Linked DNA regions of Homo sapiens: region 1 is linked to region 2. The links come from fine-mapping of genetic effects on gene expression. Tissue or cell type: whole blood. Region 2 holds a variant in brackets; the other region holds the start of a gene. All regions are shown on one strand. Distances are between the middles of the regions.

Evidence for each region. PIP is the estimated chance that this variant, and not a neighbour inherited with it, causes the effect.
Region 1: ITGA1 starts here. The variant in region 2 is fine-mapped to the expression of ITGA1 in whole blood (TOPMed, PIP above 0.99).

Annotation. Positions count from the first base shown.
Region 1 is chr5:52,782,815-52,793,252 of GRCh38, forward strand. ITGA1 (integrin subunit alpha 1) reads left to right here and starts at 5,102. Exons shown (of 29, transcript NM_181501.2): 1 at 5,102-5,600. The coding sequence starts at 5,540. PELO (pelota mRNA surveillance and ribosome rescue factor) reads left to right here and starts at 5,102. Exons shown (of 3, transcript NM_015946.5): 1 at 5,102-5,600. PELO-AS1 (PELO antisense RNA 1) reads right to left here. Exons shown (of 5, transcript NR_186455.1): 2 at 2,721-2,778. RefSeq lists an enhancer at 4,790-5,069.
Region 2 is chr5:52,816,050-52,826,487 of GRCh38, forward strand. All of the region lies in intron 1 of ITGA1 (integrin subunit alpha 1), which reads left to right. Among named protein-coding and RNA genes, the nearest start is that of PELO-AS1, 20 kb to the left of the region's middle. The variant T/G (reference allele first, on the strand shown) is at 4,048.

The sequences.
Region 1 (10,438 bases), 33 kb before region 2:
TTTGAAAGCCTTGACTTTATTTATTCTCTATTATAGGGATCAGATGCAATTAGATCATTCTATGTATGTTGTCTCTACGTAGCCTGTGAATATTCCTGAGGTTAGGGCCTAGCACTTCAACATCTCTGATTCCCCAGGATCTAAGAGACTTCCTCCTGCAGAGAAGTAACTTTGTAAGTGTTTCAGTGCATTACATGAGCACAGATGCTGCAGAGAACAAACATTAGTAATTACTATCATTGTATAGATTATGATCTAGGAGAGAAGATAAAAAATGGTCACATTATTGTAAAATAAGCTATGTAAGTGTTATTATCTCAGAGCCAAATAATAGACTCCCTTCCCTTGATGCATTTATTTTGTATTAAAGACAAATGGTATTTCCCCACACATGTGTTTAGTGACCCAGTCCTACCACAAGAAATGCCAGTCTCCTTGGTTTGAAATACTAATTAATCATTTTTTGTTGTAATTCTGGGATTTTAGAGCCCACTTACTTTATTTAACTTTTTACAAATTGGTTAAAAGAAAATAATTAAATCAACCTGTTCAAATGATCCTAGAATTGCATAACAGCTTAAATATAATTAAGTCATATTTCAAATTAAGGGACCCAGCAATGCAGCTAAAATGTTACTGCTCATCAGTGGTTGTTATTCTGAGTCATAGAATGCCACGAATTGAACATTCCTGCCAGGGCACCACCCTGGTCCACCCTCCCCTGCTGCAGCCCTGGTGTGTCACTCATGTTGAAGTCTGCCAGTAAGTCCAAGGAAGTTTCCTATAGTGTTGAGAACTGTTCCTCACCAGGATTCTGAAGTCAAGTATTTTGTTTTTTTGTTTTTTCTTAAGTACCAGTTGCCCAAATGTCTTTGGACAAGGTTTCTGGCACAGGCTTGTTCAGGAAATAGGGAGGGAGAAACACCTATTTTATATTTTAAGTGAAAAAACACACAGGAATATTACGTAATAACAAAAAACAAATGGTTGGCTCATGGTGAAGTTTAAGTTCCATATCACTGTGACTTTATTTTGGTCAGAGAGGAAGCAATCATAGGTTCTCAAGGTATATCAACAACAACTATTAGGATAATTTCACTAGACTGTTTAATTTAATAGGCTTAAAATGAAATATGCCAATGTTACAATTGAGCACAAAACTACTTATTTTCTCTTCCTAGTTACAAGTGAAAGAAATTAATGAACAGCAGGTTTGCAGTGGAATAACAACTGTTGTATCCATTTTTGCCTCTGCAGAACATAGCCCTGGAGCCCAATATATGCCAGAAAATTAAAAATTATTGAACTAGACTAAGTTTTCCATATGAGTTAGCTTTGTGAGTTAGCCCCACTGTTTTGGGGTATATTCCCCTAAGTGCTTACATACTAAAACTTAAAAATCCAAATCTTCATAAAATCTTTGTAAAAACGGAAGCAGTTCTGTACACTTCCACCTACCCCTAACACCTGAGAGTGGAGGGGATGGGGTTGGGGTAAAACCACACTTTGATGCTACCTTAAAATGTATTTAAAATCTCATATTTGACTTTTAAAAAGAAAACATGATTTAAAAATATTTCTTATAAAAATCTGTTATTTTAGCAAACAACAATTTTTAAATTATTTATTTTTGAGTAAAATCAGCACCACCCCCACTACCCAGGTGGGAGTACCTTATTTATCCTGTAGCTTTGAGAACCTATAATCTTACTGCTAAAGAACCCTGGCATACATTAGACACGGAGTTCTAGAACCTCTTCTATTCCCCCAACCTCTTAGCGGAATGTTCTTCTCTTGTAAAAAAATTAAAAAAAAAAAAAAAAAAAAAAAACCTCTGACGGCCAGCCAATTTGAAAAGCAAATTCATGTGAACGTTATAATGGGTTCTGATGTCTTCATGCATACCCATTTTATAGAACTATCTTCAAGATAATTCCCTAATCCAAGGTAAATATTTTTAAAGCGAGGATTCCAGAAATAATAATAGGAGTTGATGGAGATATTTTTAGGCGGACATTAAAGTTCCTCTTCTGATGGCCATCAAATTTCACCACTTCCTACAGGGTCTACCACACGCAGAGCCTGCCCTGTTTACATGGTCTGTTTAATACCAATTCTTCTATTTACAGAGAAGAATGATTCATACTAACCGAGCACTTACTTTAATCCAGGCATTGTGCTAAATGCTCAGAGGCTCGGTTCATTTAATCCCCACAGCAATTCTCAGACCAGAAGTAGTACAGTATTTTCATTCCCACTTTACATTTGAGAAAACTGAGGCTTAGATAAACTTGATGACGTTTCCCAAATCACACAGCTACTATATTGTGGTTCCAGGACTTGAGTCCAAGCAGCGTAACTCCAGAACCTTACTTACTCTAGTTACTTTACTCAGTATATTAGATTAACTCCAAGAAGAATACTTTGGTTTTAAGTATATGTTTTTCTTTTTGAGATTATTGGTTAATAATCTCAATTACTCTTGCCTCATTTCATAGACATCCACTTTCCAAATTCTTAATCAGTTCAGTCTCTAATCTTTCAGTGCAGCCATCCCCAACCGTTTTGGCAGAGAGACCGGTTTCATAGAAGGCATTTTTTCCACAGACCAGGGGTAGGGGAAACGGTTTCAAGATGATTCAAACACATTACATTCATTGTGCACTTTATTCCCATTATAATTATGTTATAATATATAATGAAGTAATTATAAAACTCACCATAATGTAGAATCAGTGGGAGCCCTCAGCCTGTTTTCCTGCAACTAGACGTTTTCATCTGGGGATGATGGGAGACAGTGACAGATCATCAGGCATTAGATTCTCATAAGAAGCGTGTGCAGTTCACAATAAGGTTCATGCTCCTACTCATGCTTCCAAACCCTTAAAGAGATCTGATCAAATCAAGTCTCATTTAAAATAGAAAAGTATGTAGTATAAAGTCTAGAGCTGAAACATTTGTCATCAAGTGTCTCATATCAATAACTAGTTTGTGACTCTGGGCAAGTTTCTGTCTTCTCTAAATCTTTACTCAATGACATGTCTTTCTGTCAGTCAGAATAAAATTGGTTAAGAAAATAACCGGCTTGACATTTATTTGTATTTGGGTTTATTGAAGTTCAGAAAATAAGCACTGATTCTAAAATTAATTCTCTAACCATAGTTATCTCTCAGTCTCTACATTTGTATTGACTAGACATATAAAAGATTCATAAATATGTAAACATGTAAACATAAAATTTGTAACTTGTGAAAATTAATTGTAACAATATCACTGTTAGTGATGGTTATCACCAATAATTTGTAAGTCCTAGAGGAAATAAAAATATTAAAATTGAAATTATATATTAGCCCCCAGAAGAAAGGTAAATTTCCCAGTAATTGTAAACTTGAACATATTATATGTTAACCCTACTTTATTTCAATATTTTACAATTTCTTTTTGTTTTTTCTAATGAAATATATTGCAATTTGCTAAAATGCCATATATGTATTTGCATATGTATGTATATGCTGTACATATATATGTACACATACATACATACACATGATTGTGTATATATAGACACACTATTATATGTTTTTGAAAACTAAGCAATTTGGAGAAATATCATTGGGAAAGTACTTACTATGATTTTTAAATGTCTACGAATTAATCAATATCTATTGGTTACTGTTCAAAGCACAGAGAGTCATACTGAGAGGCATAAGACATAACTGATACTACCAACAGGGAAACGAGATATACACAGGAAATGAATTCCTTGGCAGGGTATGAGAGCATTGAACACAAACAAAGGAACTTAAGTAAAGTCCAATGGGATTGAACTGTGACCCAACATAATACAATTTTTCTAGAGACTCATTTGTGTAAATTTGAAGACAGAACTGAGAAATGACATTATAAAAACTAAAAACGGGAGAACGAGATTTTTAATGTATTTACTAAATAGTGAATCAGTTCAGATACATAATAGAAAAGGAATTTCTTGATTAATGGGTCAACATACTGAGATCTGATGGCCTTCAACCTCCTTGGGTCTGCCCACCCCATTTTTGACGCTCCTTAAACTTCTTCAACTTTTGTCTTCTCCAGCTTTTAGTTGCTGTGATCCTCTATCTGGCAATGTATCCAGTGAACCCTGTGGGCTTCTTCCTTCCTGTCCCTCGTGTTACCTGTTCTGTGCTACCTGTGTTGCGTTCTGCTCAACGAACCCTCCTTTGGGTGGCACTCTTGTCCTGCCTAGCCCTAGTTCTGCTAGAGATGCTCAATTAGTTGTTGAGTTGAAGAATTGAATTGAACTGTTTCCCTCAGATTCCTCTAAACACAAATCCACTTATTCTTTCTGTCTTTGAAATTCTCAAAACCGCTAAGACACAGCTATTTTGAAAATAGCCAGCATTGGTTGAAGCTAGGGTGAATATGGCTTTTGACTCAGAGAGGTTGTTCAACTCACCAGGAAAGGGAAGCATTGCAAGTTCCTAAGCACTTCTGGACTCTTAATGCATTTTCACTCGTGAAAGTTTCAAGCAAGAAAAAAATAAAGTAGTGCCCCGAGTTCTTTATTAGATTCAATTACCAGCGTACAAACATCCTAATTCACTTAAACAAAATAGCCCACACACATTCCATTTCCAAGGAGGCTGCTTTTCTTCCTCTCTTCCCTTCTCGCTCTCCCTCTTACTGTTTTTCCTCCGTCTTGCTTCTCCTTTTCTCCCCTTATCCTAGTTATCTCAAAGAAAAGCTTATCTGCAACCACCCTTTAACCACGAATTACCATAAACGAAGCAACCCCCCCACCCCCCCATAAGCGAAAGCAAAGCCCTCAGTGGAGCCTGTCGGGGTGGTGGGGACGCCCCCTTTCGTGCAAAACGACTTCACGGTGAATTTCAAGTGTCCGCAGGGGATGGAAGGGGGGATTCCAGATCCTCGCATTTTCACAGACGGCCTAATCCCTCTGCGCAATGGACCCGGGAAAGCTGCCTCCCGTTAAGGGCGCCCAGGCACTGTCAAAGCGCCCTCCCTGCCCGGGCCGGGAGAAGTAAGGGGTGTGAAGGCGGAGCCACTGGGCTGGCAACACCCTCCCGAAGGTCCAGCCCTTACCCGCCTTCCTACCACCTTAGGGGATTTGGCCCGGAGAACGAGATCACCCTCTCAATGAAAGGCAGATGTCCCTTTAAGGTTTGCTTCTACAGCCCGTGGACTTTAGCCTAAACACGGACCCGCGAAGCTGGCTTTATTTGTCCATGTCTCGGACAGAGCCTGGGAAGCTGCCAGTGAGATTTCAGAGACCAAGAGCGCGAAGGGGCGGGCGATGTGGCAATCCGTCTGGGATGTGAAAAGCGTGGAGCGCATTTAGAGGAATTCGACGAAAACACAGGAAATCACTCCTCTCCCGCTCCTGGGCGCCGCTGCCACTGGGGCAGAGGACTGGGAACCGCGGCAGCGGGATAAGTGGCCCAGCCAGAGAGCGCAGCTCCCGCGCCCGGTCCTGCCCTGCGAACCAGCGCGGCCCCCTGGCGCTGAGGCTGCTCCGGCCATGGCCCCTCGGCCCCGCGCCCGCCCAGGGGTCGCTGTCGCCTGCTGCTGGCTCCTCACTGGTGAGCGACTCGCTTTTCTCTGAGCATCTCCTGCTCGCGGGCTTGGGGCTTGGAGCGGGGAGGGAGGTCCTCAGAGCCATGGGCCAGATAGGAAGAGAGAGCGCCCATCCACTTTCGGGCATTCCAGGTACTCAGGCCAGGCTACGGGGCAGGCAGGAGTTTCGCGTTCTGGTTTTGATATGAATTAGTTTTCGTGTCTCTCCAAAGTCCTTCACCCTAGGAGTAGGAGTGAGGCAGCACTGAAAACCTTAGAAGGTAGAATTCACTTTTAAAATTAAAGTTGTTTTTACAATACACATTGTATATTAGGACTTTGCTGAATATTTCCTCCCCTCCACCCTTTTTTATGGCATGGGATGGGAGGGTGATGCTTATAGGGCGCCTGATACATATGCAAAATTCCTACCCTCGGGTTGTTCCAGAGTGGACATTATTGAATTTTCTTGCTGTCTACTATTTAGGCTTTTTTCCCATGCAGAACAAGAAAAGGCAGGGATGCAAGACGAAACTGCCACTTGTTCCAAAATGATGTTTCTATGTCAGCACCCAAGAGGAGGGATATTTTGAAACGTAGAAAGGAATGGTGAACATTTTCTCTGTAAATATCACAGGGCAGTCTACTTTTAAGATGCAAAATATAGTATTGTTATTTGTACATAAATGTGTATTTTTAAGGAGGGGACTTAAAAACATAGTGGAAATGCAAAGTTGTATCCAATTTAGAAAAAGCTTGAAATATAGCATTTTGTAAGATTTTCCCAATAATGAACTCATGGTCAGATCTTTTTTACCAGTTACTGATTGGGGTGGGGGAAAGTTGAAATGGTGAAAAATGGAAGAAGGTGGGGGGAAAGTGTATCGATAGAATCTCTGTGTGAAAGAAAATCACCTTATTAATGGGTTAATTAACAGCTGGCTTTAACATATCATTGATATTCAATTGTTCAGTGTTTTTACTGCTGGCATGGTTATTAGTACTAGTTAATTTAGCATTTTTACCACTAAAAACAGGGTAGAGCCAGCTAGTTTAGACCTGCCTTAGATGGCCAAGCATTGTTAAGTTTTATGAAGATGATTTAGAAGTTGATTATCAGCAAGCAGAGCTTTTTTCAGAAGGGAGGTAATGTAAAGAGAGTTAATAATTAGCTACTGGCTTTTCATCCAAACATTTCCCACTACTCAGGAAATGTCCAATAATCCAAACAGTGGTAACTGCTGAACAGCATTATAGCCGGTGAGTGGTTTAACTTACCAGCTACTGCCACTACTTTTTACACATATTTGACCTATGATTCTTCTCCAACTCAAATTTTTTTAGATTGTATTTTGTTGTTTTTGTGCAAAATCTGAATACAGTAGTTTACTATCCAAGTTGTACTTTTTCATTCTACCAAATAAGCAGTCTCTAGAGTAGAAATGATGAAATGAGGTTTGCGTATCCTCTAAAAAGACAAGAGTGAAACTTGAAGTAACAGAGAAGTTTAACAAGTTACAATTTCATATATATGTTGGTGAAATATACATTGGTGAATCCAGGAAGAGACTTAAAATATTTAGAAACCTTGTGTGCACTATATTTATGCCCATTTCGCAACACATGAGGGATCTGAAATTGGACTGCTTTCCCATCAGTCATTATATTCTGTAGGCTCTTCTTTAGCAATCTCTTTCAGATTTGGAAACTTCTCATCAATTCAGAGTCCGTTTGTAACCTGGGGACTCATCACCATACTTATCCATGCACACTACTGTAGAGCTTATCTTTCTGTCTTCAATTTGAACCCAACTTCCAGTCTACCCTCCTAATACATCATTTTTACTATATCTGTTTTTAGTCAAAAATCTTTGGTGGTTCTTTGTTGCCTTTAAGATAAAATCCAAAATTCTCAACTGACTGCCCTAATCCAACACCCTCTCTCTATCTCCTACTACTCCTATGTCAGTTTCTTATTGCTGTTGTAACAACTTGCCATAGATCACCAGCTTAAAACAACATAAATTTACTATTGTACAGTTCTGTAGGTCAGAAGTATCACTGGGCTAGAATCAAGATGTCACCAGGGCTGCATTTCTTCTGGAGGTTCTAGGGGAAAATCAGTTTCCCTGTTTTCACCAGCCTCTGGCCACCACCTGCATTCTTGGCCTGTGGCCCCTTTCTCCATCTTCAACCGAGCAGGGTAGAATCTTCAGATCTTCCCCCATGACTCTGCTTTATCATCACATCTCCTTCTCAGACTCTGACCCTACTACCTTCCTAAGGATCCTTGTAATTACAATGTGCCTACCAGAATAATCTCCTCATCTCAAGATCTTTAATTTAATTACATCTTCCAAGTCCCTTTTACCATCTAAGATAACATATTCACAGGTTCCAGGCATTAGGTCATGGATATCTTTGGGAGACCATTATTCTGCCTACCACAACCCATAAGCATAAACTGTCCATTATAGCCAATCACTTTTCTTTACTTTCTCCATAATCCTCATGTTCATTTTGCCACTGAAGATATGACCTTGTTTTATACATCGAGAAAAGAATTCCACCTTTCCATCCTACCACCCTCTGACATCTAAATAAACTCTCTACAGCCTTCCAAACTGGGTTTACATCAGAACAACAAGCCACCAGCATCCCAATAAACTTCCTATTTGATTTAGACTGTCTTATATTAGCTCCTTACAACGTTTACTAAAATGATTCATCAAAAAGATGTCCTTATGTCCAAAGGATTGTTATTTTATGTATGTCAAAGTCTCAGCATAAACTGATGTCACATATAAAGGATTTAACTGAAGACAGTTTCATAAAGTGACAGTTTAGAGAGGCCTTAAAGGAACAAGAAAAGAGGGTGGAGCATCTAGCGCAAGCAACAGTAGGGAAAAAAGAACCTGAAGCAAGGTGAGAAGAAAAACCATGACCATTCCTAGGCCTGAGGAGGTGGCAGTGTTAGTTTGATTATGAACTCTAGTTATGGGAGGGTGGCCATTAGACTGGAGTTGTGGTCATAAAAAGGAATGCAGCTAGTGACAAAATTGAAGCCCAGCAGAGAAGGAGTAAGGAAAATAAATATACCTCCTTTCCTCCCACCCTCTGATGTCTTGCTCAGCCTTCCCATTGGCCATCCCCAAATGGCAAGATCCAACCTTCCAGAGAACAAAGGGCAAGACAATCAATAACAGAATAGCTAGCACAACTTAACCCCGAAATGTATTATGTGCAAGGCACTGTGCCAAGGGCTTTGCATGTATTATTTCATTTTAATCTAAAAAATTAAGTTTACTAATTGATCACAAGCAGTCACAGATTTCTTTGTTCTTTTTTCACTCCCTCAGCTTGTTGATTAGCCTTGAAAAAAAGAAAAGAAAAAATTAAAACTTTATAACTATTATCAATATTTTAGAGATGAGGAAATCAAAATATAGTATTAAGAAGTTAATTTCATTTGTCCAAAGTTGAAGAACTAATGACAAATCTACTCAATTCATATCTCTGACCTCAAATTAAATGCTCTAAAATAATATGCTATATTGGCTGCCTAAAGATAAGTTCATTCTCTCTTGCTCACTCCTCTAAATGTGAAATCCAAACATAGTTGTCTAAAATACTTGGATAAAGACCTAATTAATGATACAAGTCAATCTTTTATTTCCATGATTTTTAGGTGTACAGCATTAAGTGTAACTCAAGTAAGACTACTATTTCTCGTTATTAAGAATATAAATATAGAATTAGCCCTAATTAAACTATATGTCTCTCTTCCCTAGAAACATTTTGGTTGGCCTAGAAGCAAGGGTCTTCTTTTCACAGGCAAGATTTCCTATTCAAAATGAAATCCAGTGAGGAGATGGGAGATGGCTGAATATGGGGAGGAAGTCAGCCACTTATTCAAAACAAAGAATGACTCCCAATGGCAGACAATGTATTGTCAGGAATTGCTGAAGATGGTGAAAATTGTCTTACTCATTGTGATGTTTGTAAAGGCAGCAATGAATTCACGGGATTTTTGTTTGTTTAGTAAACAGGCAATGAGAGTAACCATGAGACACATATATATGCTATACTAGTTTAACTATTTCTCTTCCCTCCTGTCATAACACTTACCCAGCTATTTTGAAGCATGAGCTCTTGGGCCACAGCTTATCACTGATGTTCTGACTTCAGTAGATAGATGCTCCTCTAACATGTTCCTCCACTTCCAACCCAATAAACTTCCCACTAGATTTAGAACTTGCTGAATTTCCACATCTTAACATATTTTAGTAGAATAAAGTAGCTCATGTTTAAAATATATTTAGAAAAGTTGGGGACTAAAATGCTATTCTTTACCTACACTTCTCTTCTGTTGTGTGAAATACAAAATAGTGTACTCAAATTCATGTTAAGAAACTGAGATGAAAGATATTTTGAAACTGTTGCCACAGTGCTAAAGTCAGAATAGATTGCCTATTCAGAGCAGTCTGTGACTGGAGAATTGTATTCGCCCTCAAAGCAAGTACAGTAGAGTATCAAGAGATGCAAATGACTGCATATATTTCTATCTTCAAGATTATTGAGCTTCTTTCAGCTCCTTTATTATGCCAGCTACTCTAAAGTCTCCTTGGGGACTTTGCATAAGTAGTTACTCCCACTGCTACTGATCTCAATCCCTGAATAAACGTCATTTCCAAGAGATACCCTGAAGTAGATTGGACCCTACCTTAGGACATGTGTATCCCAGCACCTTTGCTTCTATTATATAATGCACCACGGTATTATAATTAACTATCTAATTGCCTGTCTTTCCAGCTTGCTGTATGCTCTGTGAGGGTAGGATCTTTAACCATAACACCTAGAAATA
Region 2 (10,438 bases):
CTGATTATTGAGGTGACTTACTGAAGTTTCCTCACCTGCAAACTAAGTTACAACCTATTGTGTTTTTTTAATTGATTGAGATTATTAACACTTTTTATAATGCCTGGTCCAGAGTAATGCTCCAAACATTTTACCTATTTTATATGCTAAATTTAAACTTAATCTTTTTGGGACTTAATATATATCCATGCACATCGAGCATATTTTAAATTCAGAAAGGAAACCAATATGCCAGCAGAAATAAAACAAATATTCTTGTTTTCAAATAAAGATCATTTCTTTATGAGAAAGATGAAAATTAACGATCTTTTAGAGATAGTTCAATGTTAGCCACTCACAGTCACAGGTTTAAACCGTGAAGTTAGTGTTTATTTTTATGAATCTAAAAACAATTGTTCCCAGCCATGGCATGAAGTCTTCCTATTGCCCCAACCCACATAAACACACTAGAAATTTTCATTCTTAGGGAGGGATAGGGAGGCTGGGGGCTACTGAATGGACATTTTGTTAGTTAAGAGCTCACTCACAGGCTGAAGGAGTGTGGAATAGGTCCACCATTAGCTATTCTGGCCATACCTCTCTTAGAGATTGGGGTCCTGGTTACCAACGAAGGACCATGTGGCCATATCCAGAGGGTTGGAGCAGGTCTCAGGGCCCATTGCCTGGCACACCTCCTCCCAGAATTCCTGAGGTATAACCTTCTCAGGAAGATAGCAGAGCTCTTTTCTAACACTCCGCTATTTCTGGAGAGTAGTGAGTATATTCCCCTCCAGGCCTTTTCACTTTTATTCAGAAACACAGGGAAAATAATAAAAGTCTGTCTGTATTATGACTAGCTACAACAGGTGGGGGTTTTCTTTGCAGTAATATTTTCAAGTGGTATCACCTAGCAGCTGGATTCCTTTGCCTTAACAGAATTGGCACCCTAAAAGCAAAAGAGATGGAAGCACTGGGAGTGATAAACTTTGTCAGTTTAGAATCAATTTAGATCAGTTTAAAACCATTCAAACTTGACACATTCAAAAGCTTTCAATGCTATCCACTAAGAAATCATATTTGAGGAATTTTTTTCCATTAAACATTTAGTCTGGCTTAAATATAGTAAGATGCTAATCTTTTCGAAACTTGTTTTTCTTTCTTTTTGTAAAAGTCAGTTGAGTTTAATATAACAAAAGGGCTGAATACCAGAGGTAGAGAAGGAAGTGTCCCAGGCTTGGTTTCAAGACAACTAGGTCCTGGATTCTACAACTAAGTGATTTTGTGACCTTGAGCATTACTAGCCATTGTGAGCCTCATTTATAAAGGAGGGATAAAGATTAAAATTATGAAATCTTTCTGTAAGTAATTGGCACACAGAATAGACGTTCAATAAATGTTAACTCTGTAGCCTAGGAGTGATCTGGTTACAAGCTTTGTTAAAACTCCTTCTTTAAGGAAATGTAAAAATAAATTGGTACTGTCAAAGCTTTTATGCCCAGGCCATGTAGAGATTATCTTCCTTCCAAAGAAACTAAAATGGATTGAGAAGACAAATATCATTCCAAGGAAAGGCTAGAAGTCTGCAAAATTATACAATTGTACTTTAGTGCACCAAAGATTAAAAATAATGCAGTCAGAATAACATTTATTTCATCTACCAGAATGTTACCCTATTTCTTGCCTTTGATTAGTTTAAGAATAGGAAACTAAGATAGTACAGACTTATAAAGATATAACGTATTTATAAATATGTATCTTTGCATATGCAAATTATAATATACATATTTTAAAAGTTTGCTTCAGTGAAATTTAGAGCATGAGCAGACAACCTATTTTTGGTGAAGAGTCAGAGATAATAAAGTTTTTAGCTTTTGCTGGCCACACAAGCTCTGTAGTGACTACTTGACTCTATCATGGTATGGCAAAAGCAGGTCTCAGGGCCACAGACAATAGTAAATAATAGGATATGATTGCGTTCCCATAAAACTTTATTTACATAAGCAGGTAGTGGGCAGGATTTGGTCTGTAGGACACAGTTTGTTGAACCCTGGCCTAGAGCATGATATAGAGTATGCTTACAAACTGGGCATAATTAAGATAACTATTCTAGAGGAAAAAGAATGTATATGCTTAGATTAACTCAGCAATTACATAAACACAACTGTAGTACATACATCTATTCTTTTAGCATCAAGGCTTGCTGAGTTGAAAAAAAAATGGTATGGTTCTCTAACTATATTCTGTTGAGTTGCTGGTGTGTAAATCACATTGTAACTGGCCACTATTACTTTTTGGAGTTCTAACATATGCTTATTTGCACATTAGGGTTTACTGTTTTTCTGTGATAGACAAATACTGAAATTTGATTCAGATCCATTACACAAATGGCCAAGACAGGATATTCTGTGAATTTCCTGGGAAGTATATTCAAGTATCACTTACCTGACAGCATCTGAGCCATTGTGTTATAAGGAATTTCCTGCAGGGATTGAATTAGTTAGGCTTAGCCCTCAGTGGTTTTGTAACTATTTCCCGCATTCACCTTAAACAATGCCTTTTAGAAGTGGTTTTTGGGTGATTCTTTTTCTCCAGGAAGAGATTATAAATAATGAAATGATTAGACCATTAGAGAATTTAAATCAGTAGAGAATGCTAATTTCTTTTTTTGTCATAGTAACAGAGCAAGCCAACTTAATCAGTGCCCTGACAAAGCATCCAGCACCAACACATACATTAGAAAGGTATCTAATTCCTCACCATTTTGGTATTCTAATTTTATAAATTTTAATTCTATTCCATTTTGAGAGTATCTAGGGATCAGAACCTTTATGGAAGACTAATAACTAGGTAAACACTATTACCTAGCTTAAGAGACCCTAAAATGTCAGTGACTTCATACCACAATGGTTTATTTTGCTCATGTATCTCATTCCTGTGTGAGTTAGATGACCCCAATCCCTCCTGTACTATGCCCTTGGGAACACACATCTCTATGGTTACAGTCAAAGGAGAGAGTTGTAGATAGAAAACGGCACACTTCCAAGTCTTTGCTATTGTGAATAGTGCCGCAATAAACACACGTGTGCATGTGTCTTTATAGCAGCATGATTTATAATCCTTTGGGTATATACCCAGTAATGGGATGGTGGGGTCAAATGGTATTTCTAGTTCTAGATCCCTGAGGAATCACCACACTGACTTCCACAATGGTTGAACTAGTTTACAGTCCCACCAACAGTGTAAAAGTGTTCCTATTTCTCCACATCCTCTCCAGCACCTGTTGTTTCCTGACTTTTTAATGATCGCCATTCTAACTGGTGTCAGATGGTATCTCATTGTGGTTTTGATTTGCATTTCTCTGATGGCCAGTGATGATGAGCATTTTTTCATGTGTCTTTTGGCTGCATAAATGTCTTCTTTTGAGAAGTGTCTGTTCATATCCTCTGCCCACTTTTTGATGGAGTTGTTTGCTTTTTTCTTGTAAATTTGTTTGTGTTCATTATAGATTCTGGATATTAGCCCTTTGTCAGATGAGTAGATTGCAAATATTTTCTCCCATTCTGTAGGTTGCCTATTCACTCTGATGGTAGTTTCTTTTGCTGTGCAGAAGTTCTTTAGTTTAATTAGATCCCATTTGTCAATGTTGGCTTTTGTTGCCATTGCTTTCGGTGTTTTAGACATGAAGTCCTTGCCCATGCCTATGTCCTGAATGGTATTGCCTAGGTTTTCTTCTAGGGTTTTTATGGTTTTAGATCTGACATTTAAGTCTTTAATCCATCTTGAATTAATTTTTGTATAAGGTGTAAGGAAGGGATCCGGTTTCAGCTTTCTACATATGGCTAGCCAGTTTTCCCAGCACCATTTATTAAATAGGGAATCCTTTCCCCATTGCTTGTTTTTCTCAGGTTTGTCAAAGATCAGATGGTTAGATATGTGGCATTATTTCTGAGGCCTCTGTTCTGTTCCATTGGTCTATATCTCTGTTTTGGTACCAGTACCATGCTGTTTTGGTTACTGTAGCCTTGTAGTATAATTTGAAGTCAGGTAGCATGATGCCTCCAGCTTTGT[T/G]CTTTTGGCTTAGGATTGACTTGGCAATGCAGGCTCATTTTTGGTTCCATATGAACTTTAATGTGGCACATATACACCATGGAATACTATGCAGTCATAAAAAATGATGAGTTCATGTCCTTTGTAGGGACATGGATGAAGCTGGAAACCATCATTCTCAGCAAACTATCGCAAGGACAAAAAACCAAACACCACATGTTCTCACTCATAGGTGGGAATTAAACAATGAGAACACTTGGACACAGGAAGGGGAACATCACACATCAGGGCCTGTTGTGGGTGGGGGGAGGGGGGAGGGATAGCATTAGGAGATACACCTAATGCTAAATGACGAGTTAATGGGTGCAGCACACCAACATGGCACATGTATACATATGTAACAAACCTGCACGTTGTGCACATGTACCCTAAAACTTAAAGTATAATAAAAAAAAAAAAGAAAAAGAAAATGGCACACTTGCTCTTGACTCCCTTGGCCGGAGGTGGAGGTAATACATTGTTAGTTCTGATCCTTGTTCATTGATGAGAACCAGCCCACATGGCTTCCACCTACTGCTAGGGACTCTGGGACATACAGACAAGCACATAATTATTTGGTGATATTTGGTGAGCCCTAACTGCCGCAGAAAAACTTTTGAAGCATTTAGTTCTCTCCCGAGACCAGAAATCAATCAGGTAAACATGAATAAGAAATTTATAGTATTATCTCAGTTTTTTTTTATTGGCTTTAACAAGAGCATATGCTGGGAGGATATTTGCTATATTCTGCTAGTTTCCCCAATTTAAGGTTGTCTGTTTTGATTAAAACCCCTTAGCCCAGTGGAAAGATGAAACTCTCATCTATTTAGTCCTTAATATCTCTATCACTAAATGGATAGGTTTCATGTACTCTTCAGTATTGATAGCCTACTTTCTAAGTGTGTGTGTGTATGTGCATGTGTTTCTGCCATTACAGTCATTGTATGAAACAATTATGTATTCTGACAACAGCTAGCACAGATTTATCTATTTAATAAATGTTGGTTGATTAATAGATAAAGGCACGTTTATATATACCAGCAAATACGAAGACTTGGATTCAGTAAAGTTTGATACCATTCAATAGCATTAAGATTAAGGATGACTGTGACGGCCTTTAGTTTGCATTTTTAGACTGCTTAATTTGGGTCAATGTTTCTCAAAGTTATCTCCAGTGGTCTAAACTGTTAAATCTGTTCCGAAGTCTAGGAACCTATGTCAGTCAAAAAAGTATGTTTTTAGACAGCTCTCCTCACCCCATTCCGTGTGAAGATGGCCCCACTGATATTCATAAAAAATAAGAATATTCCCTCCCAATGAATGTTGCTATAAGGAAATTTGCTCATACAGAATTGGTAAATGGAAAAATGATGTCACTATAATACATAAGTCACTATAATTCAGTTTTCCCTAGCACCTTAATGTTTATACTACCAATGCCACCACTTGAATGCCAAATACACTAAGAGTTGGACACAGTAAGCATATACTCATACAGTATTGTAAGGAATTCCCATTCTCCTTGTATTCTTCCTCTTTGCCTAGTTTTGCTGTGTGTGATTTCTTGGAAGGGCTTATATAATTGGCCCCAAACTTAGTTCATTTTGCCCTTGTCCCCACAACTATTCAGCCTTAACATTTTCTTACTTCATTCCACTGTAATCATTTATTTAGTATAGAATTTATTAGGAATCTAAATGCCTTTAAAATTATGCTAGTATTTTTATTTGAGTTGTTTCGACTTTATGTTTTAGCTAAAAAGGTGTATGGACTTTGAGTTGACTGCCCCAACTCTGTTTTTATCATAAGCTGTATGATTTTTATGTGTGATTTTGTAGAAAACACAAGATTGCTTTTAGGAATGAATATATCACATTATAATAGAAATATCTGTTTTCTTGCAACTTAAATTGCATATATTTTATGAATGGAAGAATGTCAACAACAAAATTGGCAATGGGACTATTTGAGAATTTGCCATGTGGAGGCCGTTTCCTGACCTTTTATCCTTTATATGCTAGAGTGCTTTAGAGTTTCCAAATGGTGTTCATATGTGGAATTTTATGTCAATCCTTGAACAATACTACAAGGATCATTATTAACATTTCTACTTGATAGACTTGGAAATCAAGGCTCAGAGGAGACAAATGTTTTGCCTACAGTAGATTGGTGACAACATTCTGGCTATAATTAGTTACTCTATTCAAATAAACATATTTGAGCTTCGATTTTACTTAGGGCACTGGGGATACAAAGATAATTAAAATGAAACTCAGTCCTCATCCAACCAGTTGCCTCTCTTCTTCCTCCCACTGATTCAGGGACACTTCCGTTTGGACTGGGCAGAGCTAGACAATCTCAAACTCATAGAGGCATCTGCATTGCTAGTTTCCTAGAAGAGCTGGAGGCTGAGTATCCGGACTGCTCTGCATAGGGGATATGGGACACTTAGGTGGCTCCTGGCCAAGTGGCCCAAGCCTGTTGCTGACTGGAAGTCTGTCACTTGGCTCTCCTCCCTCGCCAGTTCGTATTGTAGCCTCTACCCTTGACACTGTCTCACCCAGTGGAAACACAGCTGCAAGAGCTGCAGAAGGCCTATTACTTCTAATCTTTCTGCTTCGTATGATCGGTAATTACACCCCAGGGACACATAATGAAGATGGTTCATCACTGCTTTTTATGTGCTTCATAGTGTGAGATAGTGGACTGGGAACTTGAATCAGAGCAAGAAAATTGTTTTCTGCTCTAGGTTTGGTCACTTAAACTAGCCACAGTATATTAGGCAAAATATTTCAACTGCTTGGGCATCAGTGTTCTCATCATTTGAGGACACTGTCTCATTAGATGGTCGAATAGGGACTTTTCCAGCTATAGCCTTCTGAGATTCCTCAAGGACACATCGAGTTTGTATTGCATGGTCAAAAGAGGGCTCCAAGGAACCAGGTCTAACAAGCTTTAAGGTGAGTGAGTTCTCTCAATGGTGCCCCGACTTTCCTGACATCCTTCTGAATCTTAGACAAGCCTCGGAGAGAGATACTCATGGAATGACCAAAATGGTAGCACCAGATCTGTATGAGGTATTTAATCATTTTATTTTATTTTAATTTTTAGACAGAGTTTTGCTCTGTTGCCCAGGCTGGAGTGCAGTGGTACGATATTGGCTCACTGCAACCTCCGCCTCCCGGGTTCAAGCAATTCTCCTGCCTCAGCCTCCCGAGTAGCTGGGATTATAGGCTTGCGCCACCATGCCCAGCTAATTTTTGTATTTTTTAGTAGAGATGGGGTTTTGCTCTGTTGACCAGGCTGGTCTCAAACTCCTGGCCTTAAGTGATCCACCCACCTCAGTCTCCCAAAGTGCTGGGATTGCAGGTGTGAGCCATGGCACCTATCCAAATCATTTTAAATGGTGATGATTATGTCCAATAAGTCCATCTTATTCTCTTGGGCATCTCAACCTTTTCCTGCCTTAGGAAAATGGAGGTCCTCTAACTCCTAAGATCTTGTCACATGATCCTGCTGTAGGCAGAACCCACACCAGTTAAATGTTTATTTACTTGATCAATGTTTAGCCTGTGGTTGGCTTTTAAATATCCCAACGGAGACTGAGAAAGCAGTGCAGAGAGTGCTAAAATACAGACAAAGGAAAAGAAAGAATTGGAAACTAGGAGAAAACAAGGAAAAAAGAAGGGGAAAGTGCTTTCAGCATTTCTTTTCAACTTCCTCTACATGCTTAGAAAACAGAATTGACTTTTGTATGTCTGTGGTAGCTTTACAAATAAATTAAACATATTATCAACGTTTGCCAATTTATTTTACAAGTATACGGAATATCATTAGCACATTCTGGTGATAGTATGTCAGATATTTAAAGAGCTCTAGCTTGAAGAAAATGGGCCTTACTTTAAGAGTGCTATATTTGTTTTATGTTCTCATACTTAATGATCTGGGACCTAATTTTCTTCAGCCCTGATTATGCTTTGTTTCATGACCTTTAATATATATATATAGTAATCATTAAATCAAATAATTATAAGTCACTTACCAAAGGAATTAAATATGGAAAATGCATTTGAATATGTACATGATTCATCCACATTTTAATATCTATCCTTACTTCTGTTTCCTTTTGTCTCCCATTAATGATAAAATAGCTGAGAAGATTGTTCTCTCTTTTCTTTCTTTTTTTTTTTTTTTTTAGACGGAATCTTGCTCTGTTGCCCAGGCTGGAGCGGAATGGCATGATCCCAGCCTATGGTGACCTCTGCCTCCCGAGTTCAAGAGATTCTCCTGCCTCAGGGTCCCGAGTAGCTAGGATTAAAAGCATGTGCCACCACGCCCTGCTAATTTTTGTATTTTTAGTAGAGATGGGGTTTCACATGTTGCTCAGGCTGGTCTTGAACTTCTGACCTAAAGTGATCCGCCTGCCTTGGCCTCCCAAAGTGCTAGGATTACAAGCATGAGCCACTGTGCCCGGCCAGATTGTTCTCTCTTAATGGGCTGATAAGTAACCAAGTAAAACATATTGTACTTTTACCCCATGCTAGAGGCAGCAAGCCCAAGCTGCAGAATGCCCAATTACACAATCCTCTATTAGCCACCAAAGAGAAGATACTTTTAAATTTGTATTACATTATTTAAATAGAAAAAATAAAGACAGAAGATCCTTTAAAAAGCAAACTGGATAAATAGTACTTCAGAATTCTATATATTATTTGTTACAACTGCATGTAAACCTATAATTACCTCAAAATGAAAAGTTTAGTTTTTAAACAAAGCCTATTATTGTATGATTAAGGTGGATAATTGAGCTGCTTCTTATTTTTATTATAGTAAAATATACATAAAATAAAATGTATTATTTTAACTGCTTTAAAATTGTAATTCAGTGGCATTAAGTACATTTACAAGGTTGTGCAATATTGTGAACCACTGTCTGTTTCAGAACTTTTGTTACTACATCCAGTGGAAATTCTGTATCTGTTACTCTTATTCCTCCCTTCCCTCTGCTCCTGGGAACTACAGATCTGTTTTCTGTTCCTATTAACATGCCGCTTTAAATAATATTTCATATAAATGAAATCAGACAATAAAAAGGTATTTTGTGTCTGGCTTCTTTCACTTAGTGTGATGTTTTCAAGATTCATTCATGTCATAGTATGTATCAGTATAGGCCCATCTTGTTTTAATGCACTTCACTTTATTGTGCTTCATAGATACTGCGTTTTTCACAGATTGAAGGTTTGTGGCCCACTCTTCACTTGAACAAGTAACAGCAAGTGCTCATTTTGTGTCTCTATGTCACATTTTGGTAATTCTCGCAATTTCAAAATTTTTCCTTATTATTATATCTGTTATGGGGCCTTGTGATCAGTGGTGCCAGGAACTGTGCCTATATAAGATGGAAATTTTGATAAGTGTGTGTGTTCTGACAGCTCCACTGACCAGCTGTTTCCTTCTCTCTCTCCCTTTTCTTGGGCCTCTCTATTGCCTGAGGCACAAAAGTATTGAAATTAGTCTAAAATAGGCAGGGCACAGTGGCTCATGCCCGTAATCCCAGCACTTTGGAAGGCCAACACAGGCAGATCACAAGGTCAGGAGATCGAGACCATTCTGGTCAACATGGTGAAACCCCGTCTCTACTGAAAATGCAAAAATTAGCTGGGCGTGGTGGCGCCTGCCTGTAATCCCAGCTACTTGGGAGGCTGAGGCAGGAGAATCGCTTGAACCAGGGAGTCAGAGGTTGCAGTCAGCTGAGATCATGCTACTGCACTCCAGCCTGGGTAACAGAGTGAGACTCTGTCAAAGAAAAAAAAAAAAAAAAGGAAAGAAGTTAGTCTAAAATAACCTTACAGTGGCCTCTAAGTGTTCAAGTGAAAGGAAGTCACACATCTCTCACTTTAAATGAAAAGCTAGAAATGACTGCGCTTAGTGAGGAAAGCATATTGAAAGCCAAGATAGGCCAAAGCTAGGCCTCTTGGTCCAGTTAGCTGAGTCATGAATGTAAAGGAGAAGTTCTTGAAGAAAATTAAGTGCTACTCCAGTGAACACATGAATGATAAGAAAGCAAAGCAGCCTTATTGCTGATATATAGAAAGTTGAGTGGTCTGGGAAGGTCAAACTAGCCACAACAGTCACTTAAGCCAAAGCCTAATCCAAAGCAAGATCCTAACTCTCTTCAGTTCTATGAAGGCTGAGAGAGGGGTGGAAGCTGCAGAAGAAAAGTTGGAAGCTAGCAGAGGTTGGTTCATGAGGTTTAAGGAAATAAACCATCTGCATAACATAAAAGTGCAAGGTGAAGCAGCAAGTGCTGATGTAGAAGCTGCAGCAAGTTATCCAGAAGATCTAGCTAAGATAATTTGGTAAAAGTAGCTAC